2 separate regions of the Homo sapiens genome follow, and region 2 is linked to region 1. The links come from fine-mapping of genetic effects on gene expression. A gene starts in region 1. The other region holds a variant in brackets. All regions are shown on one strand. Distances are from middle to middle.

Evidence for each region. PIP is the estimated chance that this variant, and not a neighbour inherited with it, causes the effect. A credible set is the group of variants that fine-mapping cannot tell apart.
Region 2: its variant is the best candidate, but not a certain one, in a credible set for the expression of RNF146 in spleen (GTEx, PIP 0.86).

The regions. Positions count from the first base shown.
Region 1 is chr6:127,260,882-127,271,588 of GRCh38, reverse strand. RNF146 (ring finger protein 146) reads right to left here and starts at 4,725. Exons shown (of 3, transcript NM_001242850.2): 1 at 4,664-4,725. RefSeq lists an enhancer at 4,037-4,096 and silencers at 4,297-4,566, 4,667-4,766.
Region 2 is chr6:127,203,048-127,213,754 of GRCh38, reverse strand. LOC105377989 (a long non-coding RNA gene) reads left to right here and starts at 911. Exons shown (of 14, transcript XR_002956387.2): 1 at 911-1,022. The variant C/G (reference allele first, on the strand shown) is at 5,887.

The sequences.
Region 1 (10,707 bases):
TACTTTACTGGGCAATGCTGGTCTAGAATGTCTTGCATATTAATCTTGTTAAATACAAAACTGACAAGTCACTACAGGAATTGTTTAATAGAGACAATGAATTCAATGTTAATTTACCTAGACTTTTGCCGAAGACACATTAAAAAAGAAAACTGCATATTCTGTTATAATCAAAGTTAATGGGTTTAGGTAGCCCCAATTCTGCCAAACTGACCCATCACCTATTAACTCTCAGAATTTATACAGTTGACCCTTGAACAATGTGAGGAGTTAAGAATGTCTACACCCTGCGCAGTCAAAATTCCATGTAAACTTTTGAGTTTCCAAAAACTTAACTACTAATAGTCTACTATTGCCTGGAAGCTTTACTGATAACATAAACAGTGGATTAATATATGTTTTGTATGTTGTATTATATATTGTTTTCTTGCAATAAACTAAAAAAAAGAAAACATTATTTAAAAAATCGTAAGGAGGCCAGGTGCGGTGGCTCACGCCTGTAATCTTAGCACTTTGGGAAGCTGAGGCAGGAAGATCATGAGGTCAAGAGATCAATACCATCCTGGCCAACATGGTGAAACCCCGTCTCTACTAAAAATACAAAAATTAGCTGGGCATGGTGGCGCACACCTGTAGTCCCAGCTAATTGGGAGGCTGAGGCAGGAGAATCTCTTGAATCTGGGAGGTGGAGGTTGCAGTGAGCCAAGATCGCACCACTGCACTCCAGCCTAATGACAGAGCAAGACTCCATCTCAAAAAAAAAAAAAATCATAAGGAAGAAAAATATGTTTACATTCATTAAGTAGAAATGGATCATCATAAAGGCCTTCATCTTTTTCAGGAGGACGAGAAAGAAACATTGGTTTTGCTCTCTCAGGGGTGGCAGGGGCAGAAAAAAAAAGTATTGTATAAGTGGAACTACACGGTTCAAACCTTTGTTCAATGGTCAACTATAATTTCAACTGGGCACAAAATAGGGCATACATGTAATACTTATAACAATCATGTGAAGAAGCCCTCAGAAAACTCCCACATTATTTGAAACCAAAGTTTTTTTAAAGTTGGAGGAGAAGGGATGCTTTTATTTTAACCAATAGGGGGATGTAAAACAGAACAGTATGATTTCAACTACAGGCCAGAATTAATTTGCCAAACATAAATAACTCAAACATACATAATTCCTACTGGAATGAATGACCTGTAAATTTTACACCAAACTTAATATGATGATGTATGAAGAAGGTAACATAAAAAAAAGAAAAAGTCTAAAACCAAATTAGATACTTTGCCCCTAACAATTCTGGAGGAAAAAAACAGTGACAGGTAAAACTTAAAAATACACAAAGGGGTTTAGGGATTATCAATGAATTTAAATCTTGACCCATTCAAATAAGTGAAAAATAAATACAACTAAAAATGAAGTAATATTGTACCATTTATAATTTGTAACAACTCAAAATACTCATACTCCCACTTTTCAAGTCAGTCACAAGATCAAAGTCAAGAGTTTTTTTCAGGTAATAGATTCAAGCAAGCGATTATCTTTAATCAAAGAAAAAGATGAGCATATAACATCAATATAAATACATATAAAAACAAAGACAAATATCAATTATAAATATTTGAAGACTTACTGTATTTTTCTAATTATTAACAGCTAATGTTTAATAAGATTTTTGCCATTTATTCAAAATACACAAAACAGTAAATGTTCTACATGAAATCACTCAGTGACAGAAAGAAAAAATACTTGAAATGTTCCAACTTTTGGTACACAACTCAAAAAAAATTATATATACATAAAAGGAGTAGATAAATCAGGTGTGAGTTAGCAGACACATCTTAGTATTTTTTATAAACCAGTCACAAATTGAGAGATGTAACTAAATGCCCTAATGTCTCAATTTTTAGCCCTCATCATCTCCTGCTAAAAATTAGCTAAGAAAAAGCATAGGTCATACTTGGAAACTTCAGACAAAACTCATTTCAACTAAATGGGGTCTGATACTTTAAAGAATTATTTCCCTTTAAGACGTTACTATGTGGCAGTCTACTTACTGCCTTCACAATCTTTATACTAGCCCATTAAACCCTTTAATTTTTCTCAAAACAACAAAAAAGTGAGCTTTGCATTTTATTTCAAAACATGAGATGTAAAAGTGAACGAATATTGTCTTTTAATCATATCACACACAGATGTTTCTTAGCCAGCAACCATTTCATAAATAAGAAAGCTCTTTGGCAAATTATCTGTGTGACCTTGGTCAAGTCATAACCCCCAGTCTTTTGTTATCTCATCCTACTCTATAATTCTGTAATTCTAAGTTCTAAATGCTTTAATTAGCAGTCCGTTAACAACATTTTGGATTTGAATTAACCCAAAAGGTAACACGCCATGAAAACTAAAGATAGTCCGTAAGTAAGCACAGGTGGTTGTAGCCAAGTGTTACATAAATTAGTTTCTATATCCACAAAGATGTTGTTTCACAAATTCAGATTCCTCAGGCACAAGGCAACCAAGAGAATGGAAAAGGCTCAGTACCTTCTATTACTAACACGGGAGAAAAATACGCATTCGAATTCCCAACTGTCAGTGCTGTTAGATGTTTCCTGGTAGTATATGGTTAACATATAAAATAATATTCTTTAAAAAGATCGATATTGTGAAAACAAAAGATTTAATATCCTTTTCTTCTTTTGACTCAAAATATCGTTTTGGATCCTTTAAAAAAAAAAGTCTGTTCCTTTCCTCTGACAAGTTAGGTTGGTGGAGACTGAAACAAAACACTTTGTAAGTTGACATCTCCTTTTAAAAGAAGTTATTTCTTTTTTCTTCTCTTGTCTAAAAGACCAGCTATTTGGAGAGAGTTTTCCTGATAATTATAATTCTACCAAGTTCTGAACAACCAGCGAAGAAAAAAAATATTTAAATGTATTTCCAGTCTGCCCACATGATACACTGGCTCATTTGAGACATAAATTCTAAATGAAAGATTGGGCTGAACAACATCCTCCACTTTAAGATATACAAGGCACCAAAACAAACACATCCAAAATCTATTTTTAGAGTGGTGTTCACTCTTCCGGTTTTCTCTTTAAAACGAGATTTAGTTGACCTATTTTCATGTGTTTTTAGGGCACCCAGACACTCTATACAAACAATATTTGCTAATCATAAAACAGCAAAGCCAAAATCACAAATCCTGTTATCTGTGTGGGACATTTTCTCCACGTGTCCTTACGTGCCATGTCTTTGAAAAGTCTAAATATAGATTCACTGACTAAAATGTCCTAAGTCTTCCAAATTCTATAATTATATACTGGATTGAATGCCAATATTATACGTTCACATCCCATTTGAAAAGTACACACACGAGGTGGGGGGGATGTGCCCACTACCTGAAATGCCAATCATACAAAGAACAAAGCGTACCCTATCATCTTTGGGCTTTCTTCTCTCCTCAGTTCTACACTGTTTCGATATTACAAAAATATTAAACAAAATGTTCAAAACTTGAGAAATAAGTGCTCACTAAAATGGCACTTAGAGAAAATAAATTAAAACATATACCAATATGATTAACGAGAAAAGATTCTAGTTGCCAGGATGTGTGTGTAAACTTACAGTCCTGTAGGTTTTACCTGTGGAGAGGACGGTTCCGTCTCCACTCTTAAAACAATTTTACATTCTTTAGAAGCCTTAGCAAAATAAATAGCGACAACAATGGAAGACCCACACTCCTTCAGACGGGATGGAGGGTAGGAAGAGAACTCCCCACCCAACAATCAGAACAAAGCAACAGCCTCAGCTTTTAAGATGCAGAGGGTTTGGAGGCTCAAGGGATATTCTGAGATCTCTTAATTGTTCCGATGCTTCAACAGCCGTCAAAAACAACTAAGAATATGCAGCGCTGGGCTTCACTAGGACAAGGTGCAGGGATTGCTCTCTTCGTTTTAGGCAAGACCGAGACACTGAGCAGGAGAAAAAAAAGGAGGAAGAGCGAGAGAAGAGAAAGCAGCAGCCAGAGACACTCCGGGAAAAGGCAAAAATGCAGACTGTACGCCCTGGCTTCGATCTGACCCAAGGCCCAAACTGTCTGACCCCACACGGGAAAACATGGAGCAGGCTACCGCCGAAAAACCATCGCCGCCCCTACACCTCGAGGCCAGAAGGTCCCCGGGTAAAGGCCTAAAACCACGGCCCAGAGGGGAGGAGAGGGACCCGCCTGCCACCCGAGGCAGCGAAGCGGGCTCAGGCGGAAGAGGCTGCGCAGTAATGGCCGCTGCTCCGCCCCTCGCACCCGGACCGAGACCAGCTCCGGCCGTCACCCAGGGCAGGGGCTGCGGCGCCCTCGGGCAGCGCAGGGGCTGTCACGGTCGTCTTGCCTGCCCCAGCAGCCAAGGCGGGGGTGGCGGAAAGGGCTGAACTGTCCCATCCCGCCTCTGCGCGGACAGCCGGGGCCGCGCCAGCCCAAGGGCGTCCATCTACGTACCGGCCCCTGACCCCGCCGCCGCCCCTCTCAGGCCCCGAGCGCAAGGCCGACCCGGAGTACGTTGCGGCTGGAGGTGACACCGCGAGCTATGCCTCCTCTCCCCGAGTGAGGATCCTAGAGTGGCCGGCGTTCACCCTGCTCCCCCGAGAGGGCCTCGCTCCGACTCCCACCTCTCCGGCCACAGCTGCGGCCACCTCGCAGTCTTTTCTCTCTGGCCTCGGAGCCCGCAGCTGCCGGGAACGCGCGCGGCCGTCACGTGACCACCCGGCGCGTCGCGGAGGAGGGGCCGCGACGCGCCGCGCACCCGCACCCGCACCGGCGAGCTAACTCCGGCGCCTCATCGTTCTGCCCCTGTCTCGCGCCGCTGTCTGCCGGTACTCTCTTGCCTGTGGGGAGCGGCGACTTCGCTGCTTGCATTCTTCTGGCTTCTTTAGAGTGTGCTTGCTTTGTATTAGGGCCCAGAGGCTCTGAAAGAGTGCAGTTCCAACAGAAAGAGATTTGGGGTGGAGGAAGTAAAACGTGTGTAGGACCAGCAGGTGGTGCTGCTCAAAAATCCAGCTTTGCTATCCTGAGGAAGCTCTGGGGCGCCTAGCTGAGTTTCGGCTTAAAGATCCCTTAGCAAAAGTACTGCTTGTTCCCTTTCAAGAAAAAAAATGGGGAGGGGGGGGACGGAGGGGAGAGAGTACTGTAGGACTTTCCAATTTGTTCTCCTTTTTAATGGTTGAGCAATTTAATCGGGGAAAAAATGAGTATTAGTTTTCTTTTGAAACCCCACCCTTTTTTTAAAAAAAACAGAATAGTGCCTGAGAAACTGAAGAAATTAATCTGCATGATAATCTAAAATTAAAGAGGTTATTTTGATCGCAAGCCTGTGGTTTTAAACATCAGAACTCTAGCAGTAATTCACCATTTTAGCATGTACATTTCCTTTTTCAGAACTGATTAAATTTTCCTAATTTGTAGGAAAATGAAGAGGGTGGAAGAGCAGACCTTTTATCTTTAGAAGAGTATGTATTTCAACATTCTATGACAGCGTCTTCTCATTTGCATTAGTGTTGCATTTTGGGATTTCATTAACTGTTTGATTCAGGATTGGAAGTTTTCAGTGTCCTTATAGGTATAGAAATGTATATGTTTTCTGTTATTCCTCTGAAATCAGTTTATTTCAGGGTTCTCATTCATATATATCAATATGTAACCCAATCTCTTGAAGGGTGCATCTAGTTCAGTGATGCTTGCGCGTGTATGCAATACTGTTCCATACATGTAGAAATATTGAAGTGTATATCCTTTAACTTTAAGCTTAGTTTTCTATCTTTATCTTCTTATTAGCCACTCAGTTTTGTCCCTCTATCCTACACAGCCCATGAACAGAGAATAGCTAAAATTTGATATGTACTCGAAGATTCCAGCTTGAAGAGGTAATGCTAATATTAACTAACAATGTGCCAGGTGTTGCTCTAAGTGCTTTATTCATATATACCCACTTAATTCTCATAATAAACTATGAGGTAGGCACTATTATTATTCCCATTTTACAGAGAGAGAGACACACACAGCTGAGATTTGAATCCAGGCACAGACTGTAAGATGTCAGCTAGTTCAACCCCTTCTCACTCATACCCAAGGTCTTTGTATTTCAGTAAATGGTTGCATCTTTCCTTGTTCAAACCCACCTTTAACTCCTCTCTTTTATGTCTTATATGCATTTGGCATATAACCTGTTGGCTCTTCCTTCAAAGTATATCCAACTACTTACCACCTCCGCTACAATCTGCATCATCTCTTGTTTGGATTATAGTGTTACGGTAGACCAGGAACTAGTCTTTTGACTCTATCCTTAATACAGAATCCTAAATAAATCTACTTAAAAAGAAGTGAGATCGTACCACTCCTTTGCTCAAAGTCTCCTGTGGCTTCCCAACACAAGTAAAAACCAAAGTCCTAACGATGGCTTTAAAATCCTCCCCTCATTACCTCTTTGACCCCACAGACTGTTTACCCAGCTTTGTATTCCCAGAAAGCTCTCCACAAGCTGCCAACCTCATAGTCTTTGCAGTTGTGGTTTCCTCTGCTTAGAACACTCTTCCCCATCATGCTCCCTCCATATGTGCTCAGATGTCCAACTCTTCAGTCAGTCCCTCTACTTGTCAGCATATTTTAAGTCATGATGTTTCCATTCCCAATATTTCATATTTCCTCCTTTACTTTTTAATACTTATCACAGTGTAATGGATAATTTATTTTACTTACTAATCTTCATCATATTTCTCATCACATTAGGACGCAAGACACAGGAGGCCAGGAATGTGTGTTCTGTTTTGTATCTCAACTGCCAGGAATAGTGCCTGACACACTTAAAGAGGTTCTCTGTAAATATGTGTTACATGAATGAGTAAATGAATGAATGAATGAATGAATACACACATGGCCGGGCAGTAGCTCACGCCTGTAATCCCAGGACTTTAGGAGGCCGAAGTGGGCGGATCACGAGGTCAGTAGATCAAGACCACCGTGGCTAACACAGTGAAACCCTGTCTCTACTAAAAACACAAAAAAATTAGCTGGGCATGGTGGCACGCGCCTGTAATCCCAGCTACTCGGGAGGCTGAGGCAGGAGAATCGCTTGAACCTGGGAGGCGGAAGTTGCCCGAGATCGTGTCACTGCACTCCAGCCTGCACTGCAACAGAGCAAGACTCCGTCTCAAAAAAACCCCAAAAACCACATTTGTGTATGTGAGTGTGTATATATATCCCCATTTATATATATATATGAATATATATATATCTCCATTTATATATATATATGAATATATCCCCATTTGTATATATATATGAATAAAAGTGAACTTCTCATTTTTCAGTAGTTGCATATGAAAAGCAGAATTGAATGCATGGAATACTATACACCCTACCTCCATCAGCCACTTGAAAGAAAGATAGAAGTTTATATCTTTGAATAACACAGGACAGCACCTCTCAACATTGTCAGAGTGCTGGTTTCCAGTAATTAAGAGTAACTGGTTTCCAGTAATTTTAAGTACCAAAACTTCAAATTATTTGCTTAAATAAATCAGAGCCTAACAGTTTCAATGTATTTCTGTAATAATGTTACTGTCACTGGGATTCCATTTTGCTTCATTGAATCAAAGGTAAAGAAGTTGCAGCTGACTGCTAGGAATTACCCAGTTGCCTGTTTGCTTATAGCTTATTGTCTATTTCCCACAACTTACAAAATACTTTGCTGAATACCACACATCTCCAGGCACCTACTCTTCTCCATTTATCCTTCCAACACTCAAAAATTGTCCAATGTTATTTGTTTTACTTAAGGATCAAAGCATTTTTTTTTGTTTACTTAATATCTGAAGACATCCATGAAAATGCATGAGAAAATGATGTGTTACAATAGAATGTACGTTGAAACCACTCGTGGCTAGTTTAGGGCGGCGGTGTTCCAAGTGTTATCTAGTGACCCATAGGGGTCCTTTGACTCTTGCAGAGTGTCTGAGGGAAAATTGTTCTTATAATAATACTAAGACTCTAGTTGCTTTGTTTACTTGCACTCTCAAATGTACAGTGGAGTTTTCCAGAAGCTACATGGTATGTGATGTAGCAATAGATTGATTATAGAAGCAGATATGAGAATTTGACTATATCTATTAAACCAGTCATTAAAACGATGTAAAAAAAAAAAAAAAGTAAAACTGCACTCTTCTTTCATTCAGTTAGCTTTGTTTTGGAAAATGTAGTGTTTTTTTTTTTAATAAAGTATGTTAATACAATGAGTCATTTTTAAATGAATTAGTATATATTGTAAACCATTCTCAATTTCAACTTTTAATTTGGTAAATATTGATTAGCTCATAAAAGTTTTTTGGGGTCTTCTATAAATTAGCACTGTCAAAGGGTCCTGAGACCAAATAAGAATGCTTGTCTGGGGCTATTTTGCTTACCAACTCTAAGTTAAATTTCTTCCCTTTTCACATGCCGGCAACCATCTGATAGCTGTGGACACAACTTTCTCATATGCCTGGAAACAGAACAAACCAGATTCAGGAATGTACCAGTCATTATAGCTAGCAGATGAATGGAAATCAAACCAAGAGGAAGCTTTGGAAAGCAAACTTTGTTTATTTTAATTAAAAACTTTGTTTCCAGAGCTGATACATAGGTTGGTTTCTGTCCTATCATTTGATGTTCTACTTACAGTAATCAAACAGTATATTATTTTCTAGTAGAACTCCTTTGCAAATAATAGTACACTAGCCAGTTTAGCTTGTGTTTTTCTTTTACCTACTGTGATTATCAATGCTTTCTCTTCTAATGGTTCTTAATGTTCCTGCGTTGCCCACAGACATTACAACTGAATTAGGATAATGTATGGCTAGAAAATAGCCCCAAGAGTCACTGAGTTAAACTTTATAGTTTGACTATAAAGTCAACGATGCATTTATTTCCTAACCTGGTTGTATGTATATAATATGTATTTATTAATTTTTAGATGTCTTATATTGACAGTAGTAGCTCTGATGTCTCCAAAGTCCATGCTTGTTTCATTAAATGACATAACCTTTCATTGACCATAGTATTAAAAGATAAGAATAAATGCTGTATTTTAACAGTGGAGGTTTTTTAAGCTAGCTTATTATTTTAACAAAATAGTCCCTTAAACAATGTACTCCATCACATAAAGGAAATTGCTTAAGGTCATCAAGGCAGCAACTATGTTTTGCAATGTCACATTTTCCTGTATCAGTTTAATATAATTATAACCTAAAAGTTTGAAGTATTTTCACAGAAGTTTGTCAAGCAAGATTCTCTTTGGAAAACAAAAACCACCTTAAGTATTTCAGACAGAGACTCTAATGTAGTGAAATGGTGGTGAAAGTGTTAGAAAACTGGAGGAACCAAAAAAGAAAGATGAAGATACCTTGAAATCAGTAACTGCAGAAAGTCACTGGCTCATCTAAGTTTGGAGGAGCAAAGGGTGTTCTGGGAGCTCCTGGAGGCTGCTAGAGCACTTTTTATGAACTGCTATAATAGGAAGTCAGGGTCCCATATGCACACTGAGCCTGCAGAAGTCCAGGAACTCACAGCCATAAGCAGTCACCTACCACTCCAATGTCAGAACCAGAAACGAATAGGAAAGAAATCACCTTCTCCTTTCCACTTACTTTTTCCATGTGATTGCCTTCAATTGACAAAACTAAACAAGAAACCATCTGTCAAAGGATTCTCAAAAACAACTTTTTCCAGCTCCATTAGATATAAAGCAGAACATAGAAATGCCATTGTGAGACTGGGCATCAAATATGTGGTTCAAAAAGTTTGAAAAATGATTTATTATATTGCTCAAGGTGATATATATTCTGAAATATGGAAAGAACTAGAATAATTGATTGCCTATTATTTTCTAAGCTCTTAACAAACCATTTTTTTCACCATAATGATCCAGGTCCACGAATATCTTTTCATCATTGTTCTATGAGACAACTGCAACTCATTGAGGTTACCAGTGTTCACAGGTAGCCCAGAGTAGAACCACGGTGAAGAGAGAGAGACCAGCTGAGGGGAATATGGACATGCATCAGTAAAGGTTCAGTAAAGACACGATGAGTCCTAGGATCAGGAGCGCCATAAACTAATTCGGGCATGCTACTTACTGTATCCAAATGTCAATTTTTTTATATGTAGCCATAAAACGGGTAAATTATCACCTCTATTCAGAGATTTGATAATGAAATTTAAGATAAAGTACTTGGCCAAGGTTGAAAAACCTTAGCTATTACAATTACATTATTTGACCTGTCTCAAATTCTGAGCTAGTTCCGCCAGAGCCTCTCATTCAGTCTACTAGAAAGCATAAGAATAAATACCTATAATTTCATAACTTCTATTGTCTTTTGGCAAAAACTGATAAATTATTTTCTTTTTCTGTTTTATAGAGTCTATATATATATATTTTTATACTTTAAGTTCTAGGGTGCATGTGCACAACGTGCAGGTTTGTTATATAGGTATACATGTGCCATGTTGGTTTGTTGCACCCATTAACTCGTCATTTACATTAGGTATTTCTCCTAATGCTATCCCTCCCCCAACCACCACCCTACAACAGGGCCCAGTGTGTGATGTTCCCTACCCTGTGTCCAAGTGTTCTCATTGTTCAATTCCCACCTATGAGTGAGAACATGCGGTGTTTGGTTTTCTG
Region 2 (10,707 bases), 58 kb after region 1:
AGTCAAGAAGTAAGTTAGGTGTTGTACTATTAAGGTTACTGGTAGTTAAAAATCCTTAAATGAATGAGATTTTTCTCTATGAAAGACAGAAGAGGCCTGGCGCAGTGGCTCAAACGCCTGTAATCCCAGCACTTTGGTAGGCTGAGGTGGGCAGATCACCTGAGGCTAGGAGTTCGAGACCAGCCTGGCCAACATGGCAAAACGCCATCTCTACTAAAAATACAAAAAATTAGCTGGGTATAGTGGCGGGCGCCTGTAATCCCAGTTACTCAGGAGGCTGAGGCAGGAGAATTGCTTGAATCCAGAAGGCATAGGCTGCAGTGAGCTGAGATGGTGCCATTGCACTCCAGTCTGAGCAACAAGAGGGAAATTTCATCCCCCGTGACCCTCCCCCTGCCCAAAAAAAAGAAAGAAGAGGAAAATCAAGAGTAAATGGTGGCTTAACAGTCATAGGAGGAAAGAATCTCAATAAAGATGATAAACAACATCATGAGTAGAAGAAAGGTCATGTAAGGTAAGGACTAAAACATGTTTGTTGTTTTTAGTAATTAAAGACATTTGCAAGATTGAATTTACTGTAATAGAGATAGAAAAACACAGATATGGTGGTTGACACAGTCCTAAAAAATGGAGTCATGGAGGTAAGTACATACTGCTCTTTGGAGAAACATGGTTGTAAGGTGAACGAAAAACTAAGGTGTACACTAGAAGGAAACAGAGCGACAAAATAGGAGATGCTGAAAGAAAAAGAGAAGTTGAAATACAGAAGAGAAGAGACGCAATGTAAGCTTCCCAAAGAAATGAGAAGATGTGATTCAAAGAACAGATGGTAGGTTTAACATTTGAAATGTAGGACAACAATTTAGCTAAAATAGAAAGGGAAGAGGTAAGGCTGGCTCTGACTATATTTACACTTGTTTGTGTTTTGGGGAGAGAAAGGAAGTGGAGAACGTTCTTGCAAGATGATCTGTATTTTCTCTCTAAAGCAGAGTTCATTTGCTGAGAATGATGGAGAAAATCAGGTTAGTGAAAGTTTGAAAATATTATTGTGGTGAATGACAGAGGAAGTGGATTAGGGATAGTTAGAAGTTTTACTGTGTAGTGTTAATAGCCCAACTGATGTGGGAGACCATAAATTTGTAGTGGCATCAATCCATGTGGTTGTGGAATTTGTTTTTAGCAGTGCTTGGCAGCCAGATATGTGACTGGAAAGGGAGTGATTGGTTGATCCAGGGTTTGAGTTTTGCTAATTAGGTGCAGAAGAAGGACAAAAGGCAAGGGAACTGATGGTAATGGCAAGAGAGATCTCTAAGTAAAATGTCATGAGCTTTATGGGGATTAAGGTTGGTAACCATCACTTAATGCCTACTTTTAGCATGGAACAAGGTTATGTTTTACATAATTTATCTCTAATTCTCACATCAAATATGTAAGGTGGGTATTCCTACTCCCATTTACAAGTGAGGAAAATGAAGCCCAGCTGAAAAATTTAGTGACGCCAGGTGGAGGATGAGAGATTAAGTAAAATCGGAAGGGTGAAGGACTAGAGTCCTTAATGAGATTGAAGAATATTATCAGTGGACCAAAAAGTTGAGGAAGCAGAAAACACATGAGATTGTGGACACAGTGTGGTAATCAAGAAATTAGAAATCTGGAGCTAGATGATTTGGGATATGATATGGACTAGGGTATCCAGACAGAGATATATAAACAATAAGGTTGGAGTGTTGAATATACTGTCCACACAGAAGTGGCAGTTGTCCAAGATTAGTAGAAATAGGAATGAAAGTGGATTGATCTGCTCAAATCTTTGATGAATCTGTCAGGAGTGGTAGAAGTGAAAAAGTGGCAATGGTACAGTAAGTGTAAAGCATGATTTTGCCAGATGTTCTGAACTTTAAGAGAAGTTAAGGTTTAGAAACAGTAACATGAAGTCCCGTTCTTTTTTTTTTTGACGCGGAGTCTGGCCGTGTGGCCAGGCTGGAGTGCAGTGTCACGATCTCGGCTCACTGCAATCTCTGCCTCCCGGGTTCAAGCGATTCCCCTGCCTCAGCGTCCCAAGTAGCTGGGACTACAGGCGCGCATCACTACGCCCGGCTAATTTTTGTTTGTGTTTTAGTAGAGATGGGGTTTTCCAGTGTTGGCCAGGATGGTCTCAATCTCCTGACCTAGTGATCCGCCCACCTCGGCCTCCCAAAGTTCTGGGATTACAGGCGTGAGCCACCGCGCCCAGCCAAAGTCCCATTCTTCTGGCTCCTTCCTTCATGTACATCCTTCTCATTCTTGGTCATCCCCTACTCCCCAAATTCTATGCTTTTCCTATTTATTTTGTGCTGCTTCCAGTCTGATCTAGCCACTTCTCACATCCATCTCTCTATCCATACCTAGACTCCAACATACAGCTCTTCTAAATTGAGCTGTCCATTTCTTTCATTTAGTGGATATTTGAATAATTCCCTTAAAAACGGGGGTGGCCTTGAAAAATCCCACCTCATGTGCTAGAATTCCCTGGAGTTACACTTCCTGATAGAGCTCATGGGTGAATTTGAACATGCTGTGGTTTGAGGACATGAATGAATGGCCACTTTTCAAGGCTCCAGCTCAGTGGTATGGATATTTTATTATGGTGCCTTTGAAGAAATTCTAGCCCAAGAATGCAGACACTCAGAATAGCTTTTTCCCAGGACCTGACTTTGGGGGTTGGGGGCGGGAGTAGCAGCAGCTTCTGGGAATGGCGGGCTGTCCACAGCACCATTGCTTCCTTAGCTCCTTTAGGCACCGTTATCAGCTTCTTAGCTCCTAGTAAGCTTGTGGTCCAATAAAACCTCTGAGGGTTGACTTTTTCCGTGCCAACTGCCATTCATTTCCTTGTATTGTGTGTTTTGTTGTATTTTAACGTAAGCCTATTTTTTCTTTTCTTACTGATTTTATCATTTTGGCCCAGCCTATCATCACACCTGCTATTTTACAGTTTCGACTTTCTCCTCCAAAGTATCAGTTATTTCTGTCAGCACTGTCCTATTTTTTTTTTTTTTTCAAATTCAAGTAGGCATGCTTTCTTTAGCTTCGTCTAAGCTATTGAGATGGGGCTAACAGGGCAAGATGAAGGACAAAGAGATTGACATAGATAATTTTATCAATACTTCTTACATAGGGTTGTTCAATCAGATATGGAGCCATCTAATTGTAGCTGCTTCTCTAAATCTTATACATAAATATATTCAGGGAAGTTCTGTCAAATCTGTTATTTAATTCAATACACATTCTGTAAAACTTCCCTAATCTATTACTTTAAAAACTCTAAAAAGCAAACAAACTAAACCACAACAGAAAAATGGGATTAGTAAGGCAGAGAGCATGATACCTGAGAGGGGTTGTGATCCCATGTGTCCTGTAGTTTTCTCTGATGGTAAAGGCCGGTATTCTAGCTTCTTATCAATAGTTTAACATTATTTTTAGAATTTTATCAGATACCAACACACAACTTTGGTGCAGTCTTCAAAATCCACAATTGTTTCTCAGGGCAAGCCCTGTTATTTAGGCAAAAAGGAAATATGTTTTGAAAATAAATTTTTTTAAATGAGCAGTTTTGGAGGGGTGCTGAAACATAATTGATTTTTTTCAGAAGTATTTACAATACATGTAAGATAATTGCTTTATTTTCTGGCCTTATATAATAAATTTTATGATTTAGAATCTAACTTGAAAGCAAGCATTTCTCTTTTATTGGCTTAGGAGAAGTTGTGAAGATGTGTGATTTTTTTACAGATCATCTGAGTTTCTATAGGACAGAAAACTAGAATTCTATATTTAGTATTGGATCCATACTGTAACCATTACATTAGGTTTCTATTTTTAAGGATTAAATAGTAAGTTAATGGAAACAATATAGCCCTATTTTTGCTTAATATGCTAAGCACAAGATGCTTTATATGAGCAACTGAATACATTAATAAAAAAATCTCATTTTTAATTGAATAGCTGAAATGATGCCAATATGTGAAAGAATTATAAACTGTTACAAAAATAACTGGTTGCATTAAACAGGATTGCATATAGTAGACTGCTGCTGCATGTGTTTGAAAAAGGAAATGCAAATATGGAAATAAATATATGTATTTAATTAAATAAAATATAATTAACAGGTTTAAATTTTTTAAGGGAAATTTTGCTACTAGGCAGTGACGTCAACCTGAGCTATTTTTTTTTCTTGTCAGTGATTTATATTCATGATTCAAATATTGGCTGACAATTTGATCAAGGGGGAGATAAGGCATCCTTAAATTGATATTAATAATATTATCAGACTTGATATTTTACAGCATTTTACATTTTAAAAAGATTCTGACATCTATTTTTATTTTATTTGTAATTTATTTAAAAAATAATGTACAAAAAGTAGAAAGTAATATAGTATACACGAGTTTGGGGCACAGAGTTGAATAGCCAATATTGCCTAAAAGTTGAGAAATTTGACTTAGGTGTTAAGGAGGGCAGCAACCAAGATTGATTTTACATGAAAAAAAAAATCAGTTAAGATGAAGTAGCATTACCAAATGCATTTATATAGAAAAGGATACAGAGAAATAAAGGTGAAGGCAAAAATATCTTACTGAAAATTATGAAGTGATATGGGAAGTCAAGAGAGAAAGTTGGGAAGATGTATTGGGGAAAACAAGTTTGAATGGAAATTCTGTTAAAATTGACATTTATCCCTCACGCTTAATATTTATAGTGGAATTTTAGTTTTATCACAGGTGTGGATAGTTCTACTCTTTGTTAAATTAGAACATTTACTCTTTTTTCTCCTTTGCCTCAGTAGGTTAATGGCTGTAGTCTAATTTCTTCATAAAGCAGACCCAAATAAAACATATGTTGACTCTCTGTAGGCTGTACCTTGAGTTTCCTTCTTACCCACAGATAGAAGCCTTCTCTATTGAGTTGTCTACATTCTGCATCTTCAATTCCCTACCTCTCATTCTTTCTTGGCTCACTGAGACCTGGATTCTGTCCTCAGAACTTTGTTAAAATAAGTTCTAAAAGAACACCATATTGGCAAGTCCTGGGGACACCTGCCAGTCTTCAGATTGATTGATTTTGTTGCAATATTTGATATAATCGTGCCCCATAATGTTTCTATAATGTTGCTTTCTTTATTCTTGACCTGTTTACCTCTGAGTCCATCTTTCTCAGTTCCCTTCATAACTCCCTGTTTCTCTACTCACTCTTTAAATATTGCTAATTGTATTCAATCTTTTTTCTTCTCTTTCACTGAATTCTCCTTAGGCTCACTCACATATGCCCTGTGATTTATTTATTAGATAATTACTTCTAAATCAATATCTCTACCTTTCATACAGTTTAGCCCAGGGACAGACCTATAATATTCCAGACTCCTAGGAGATTATCTCAATTGAATATCTGTCACACACCTCAATCTCAACAAAGCAAATAAACAATCCCACTCTCAGCTGTGGGTGATTCTCTGATTAATGACACTGCTTACCGAGTGAGACATGGGACTCACTTTGCTCCCCTGCTTCTTGCTATTGGTTACATGTTTCATGGCTTCTACCTTCAAATGATCTCTGGTGTCTATTCCCTCCTCTCCTTCATCTTTTTCTGCATTAATTCAGGTTCTTTTTATTTTGAAGTTGACTATACAATTTTATACTCCTATACTTAAAACTGTTACTCATCCGAGTGTTCTTCATTCTTAAAAATCCATCTTTTCATTGTCACCAAAGGCAACTTTTAAGACAAATAGAATTATTTCATTGCTCCTCATAAAAACCTTAACAGACTCATCACTGTTTTCAAGATAAAGTATAGACTCTTTCCCATAACATATAAGGCCATTTATCATCTGTTTCCTGTTCACACTTC[C/G]CAAATCTCTTGCCAGAGAACACAGAAACTACTTGTAATTCCCCAAACTGCATATTCTCATTTATGCCAGGCTTTTCTCATGGCCTGTGATACCCAACCCGACATTCATTTCCTATTTTGTTTCACTGCCAAAGAAGTACTCATGATTGAGGAATTAGCTCACGTTACTAAACACTCATCCTCTCCTGCTCCTGCATCCAAGCCTGAGTTAGGGGCTCATTCCTCTTGACCTCCGCACCAGGAGGCACAGACTTAGGTAAAATACCCTCATAGCATTTGGGTATCTTATGTGTTTCTCCTAGTAGGAAGATTCAAAGACAAGAATTTTATTTTGTGGATTTGTATTATCTGTATCAAGCATGTTGCCTGGTGAACAGTAGATATACTGTAAATACCTATTGATTAAATTAAATATTATAGAAAGATTGATTATTGAAGGAAATATATGTGTATGTATGTGTGTTTACATGATTGTATTTATATATATTTATATATAACAGAAATATCGATATTTCTGTTTCAGAGTGACTTGGAAATTCTATTTTAAGCAAAGCACATACATTTTAATTAGTAGCAATTTACTGGGAACCCAGTACATACTTGGCATGCCACATAGTTTCCTTTAATCTTCACAACTCTATACAGTCTGTAAAAATATTATATTTATTTTATATATGAATATATGGAGAATCAAATAAATTACTTTTCCAAGAGTGCACGGTCAATAATAAAGAGATTTAAATGCAAGTCTTTCTATCTGCAAAGCCTAAAATAGACAGAACTTTTAAAATTTTTATTTGTTGAATTATTGTTTGTTGAAAGAGAGGAAATGACTAATAATGGAAGCCAAAGATGATTCTTTTAAATTTATTACAACTTGTGGCTTGGGTAAATTTGATCTTACTTTCAGCCTTTGCAATATCTGATGAAAGAGGGTCTGGAATTTAGAATATCCTTTATGTAGCCTGCCTGCAACTGGCATTTTGGCTAATCAAAATAAGAAAAAAAGGAATGTTTAGTAAAATGCCTGTTATTTTCAAAAGGAAAATTTTTTAAAAGGAAAACTGAATTCCTCATTTTGCTGGTATAGTTTAGGCCATGTGAGAAACACAATAAATATGTGCCATCAGGAGCAGCCTGTGAGCAGATGAAACTATCTCAGACATAGCTCAGCAGTTTTCCTCTGCCAGACATTACTTCCTATGGAAAGAGAGACAAGTATACTTTTAAAAAACACTTATATGAGATTAAATATCCTTACATATTTATTTGACTAAATGGAAGGCATTTACTGTTCCCCTGATAGTTAACAAGTTTATTTCATTTTATAAAAATAAAGATTTATACATTGGGAACAAGAAATAATTTAGGGTATATACATTTCAAATAATTTATTTTGTCATTATTAGTAGTAGTTATTGTAAATTAGGTATAATGGTTTTTAGGAGGTATTATAATTTACTCATAAGTTACATATATTTCTTTTCTTTTTTTTTTTTTTGAGACAGAGTTTTGCTCTTGTCTCCCAGGCTGGAGTGCAATGGCATAATCTCGACTCACTTCAACCTCCACCTCCTGGGTTCAAGTGATTCTCCTGCCTCAGCCTCCCAATTAGCTGGGCCTACAGGTGCCTGCCACCATGCTCAGCTAATTTTTTGTATTTTTAGTAGAGTTGGGGTTTCACCGTGTTGGCCAGGCTGGTCTGGAACTCCTGTACTCGGGTGATCGATCCACCCACCTCGGCCTCCCAAAGTGCTGGGATTACAGGCGTGAGCCATGGCGCCTGGCTGTAAGTTACATATATTTCTAATGAGTTTTTTTTTTTTCTTGGCATTGGAATACAATGCTTTCTATGTCACCTACAAAAAATCTTACCAGAGCATTACACAAAATAAGAGAAGTAATTCCTAGGGCAATTATCTACATAATAATATTATAGTAAAATTTACTAGGAGCAACTCAAGCATTTGATGTAATTATTTTGTACAGGTAGAGAGCTGGACCAGTTGCTGTTTGCCGATGATAAATGTTAATTGAATGGGATAACTACACATAAGTCGGATGCTGATAGGAAGTGCATGAAACATGGTCTCTGCCATTGCAATGAGAAACAATGGTTGAATGTCATAATCATTATAATATACTCTTACAATGGAAGTATTGTGTTTTTCTGGTACATTATATTGGAGAAATTGGTTTCCCAAGACAGAAAGAAGATTTTTATGTAACAGGACAGTAATAATTAGACCTAAATATAAACCATTTTCATATCTAAATTAACTGCTTGGTGACTGAGTGCTAGTTTCAAACAGTAGAAAACAAGGGAATTAAAATATAACTAAGAAGATAAGCCCAACTTGCAAAAAGCCATTATGGACAGACAGTATTCCATTCTTTGGATTTTAAAGTAAAATCAGTAAGTCTTTGATTTGTTTTTGGTTAATAATGGAAAGCATTTTCCAAACTAAAAGAAAATGAAATTAATACTTTATTAATGGTGCTAAGAAAAGCTAGCACTCCCTCTCACCCCACTCCTAGCAAAGCTTTGCCTCCAGATGTTATTTTGTATTTATTTTGCAATGTTTATTATGGCAGTCCAAGATGTTTATGTCTTAAAGATACATTGGTCAGTTTATTTACAGAGAGACAGCTTCTTGAAGTGAAGGCAGTTTACTTTGGGTGTGGGTTAAGCTACATAGCACTAGAGAGAATGGGTGTGACTGGTTTCCTCTTGTGTGTTCTCTTATTATTTCTTTCGTTTCTTTTCATTACAAGCGCTTCTCTCTCTCTTTTTTTAATCCTGTAAGGTTTTATATGATTTGTCCTGTGAGAAATAGTTGAGTTTTTCTGAGCAGTTACCCTGTACAGGAAATGAAAGAAACACAAGGCAGAATGGATGACAGGGCCTTGACACCTTTGCTTACCACCTTTGCCTCCTGTCAAAGGTGACACTGGAATAGCTGGAGACCTTCTCAAGGCACTCAGGATAGAGAGCAGTCTGTAGTATTTGACAGAATCACTGATATTTCTCAGGCAAGGCTTAGGATTGACTAACGGGAGAGAAGGGAGGCAGTAGGTGCTTGTGTTTGTGCAGTAGGACTGGACCAAGGATTTTGAAAGATTCTGTCGTTCCTTTTTTTAATGTATTGCAAACTAACACAGAATTAAATTGTAAAACCAGTATAAGAAAGTTCAACCAAGTTCTCACTTTTCTCATTATGACTATTTCAATGCCATTTCAGTAATATTGAATAACATTTATTTGAAACATTGCTTTGTAATATAAAAACAACATTTTTAAAGTTGTTTTTTCTTACTTCTGCTTTGTTGAGTTCATCAGAGTGTACTAACACTCTGATGGGAAATCCAATTTGTGGAAGTGCAAGGACATGACAAAAGAGAAGCTGGCAATGTGATATTTGGTGAAGGCTGGAGAAGGGCTGAGACATGTTTTGGTTAGGACTGGTGTGGCGTCTTCATACCCATAATGTAGTATTTTGCAGGAAGAGTGAAGCTTCATCTTGCAAATTAGAATATATAGGGAATTCCACTTTTAATTATTTTCCTCCACTTTAGCATTATTTTTCTTTCCATGCTTTAAGGAGTGATTTGGGCATAGATTTGTTTTCTGAAGTATTCTCAATACACTTTTAACTTAATATTTAAGTCTTGTATGTTTCAAGTGATACAAGGGAAAAGCAGGACCATCTGCTGCTTTTTCTTTGTGGATCTGAAATAATCTTACACCTCTTAAAGAGACATTTTGTAAACACTGCCTGTGGCTAGCCCTTATAACTGGCTACTTCAGTTAAAATGATTCTCAAAGGTATAGTTTATTTTATTTAATTTTAGTCATTTGAAAATAATGACTAAATACTGCTTGAGTGGCAGATCAAGACATTAATTTTGCTGGCCAGTTCAGTAGTTCAGTTATGATCATTGTTACAGATAAAAGAGTTTTCCTTCAAATTGATAATTAAATCACCCAATCTCGGTGAAGCTATACTTAGATAACTATCTGTATTTTCACATTTTCTGGATCTTTTTTGGTATCAAAACATACAAAGTTGCATAACTATAAAAGCACTAATATGTTTTATATCATTTTTACAGAATGGAAAACATCAATATTTATTGTGGATGCCAGGCTTGGTATATCAATTATTACAAAATCATACAAGGCTTTTAACCTCCATCTAGAAACCTGATAGAAAATTTTAGGAGAATGTTATGTCACCTATACATATGAAAATTGTCTAATCTGATAGCTCTACTGGTACAGCAAAGCACTGTTGCTAATTTCCTAATGGCAGAATCTATAGGTTGATTGATTATTTATTTAAAAGATACTTTATTAATGGATGGAAAGGGCATCTGCTGACTATTTTCATGTTTCATGTTTTATATTCCTGTCCCAAAGTGACTACATTAAACCTGAAACAAGTGATTTTTTTACACAGTCATTTCTCTTTATGCTTATTAATTTCTAATTATTCTTTGCTTGTCAATATAGTGTTAATTTATCCATTATCTAATTGACTGGTTTCTTTTGGGGGTGAAAGGGGTGGAGGCAAGGAAACTGATATAGGCCCTGAATTTCAAATTGCTTAGGCTTGCAAGGATGTTTATGGCCAAACAATCTATTTTGACAATTGTGGAAAGGATAATTCTCATAATAAATTTGAGAATTCTAGAGATACTAGAACAGCACATTCTAATGGTCTCTTCTGTTCTAGAAATAATACCATTTTGGATTTAATTGGATCATCTGGATATTCAAATAAAACTCTATTCTCTTGACCCTTTCACATGTACATATTA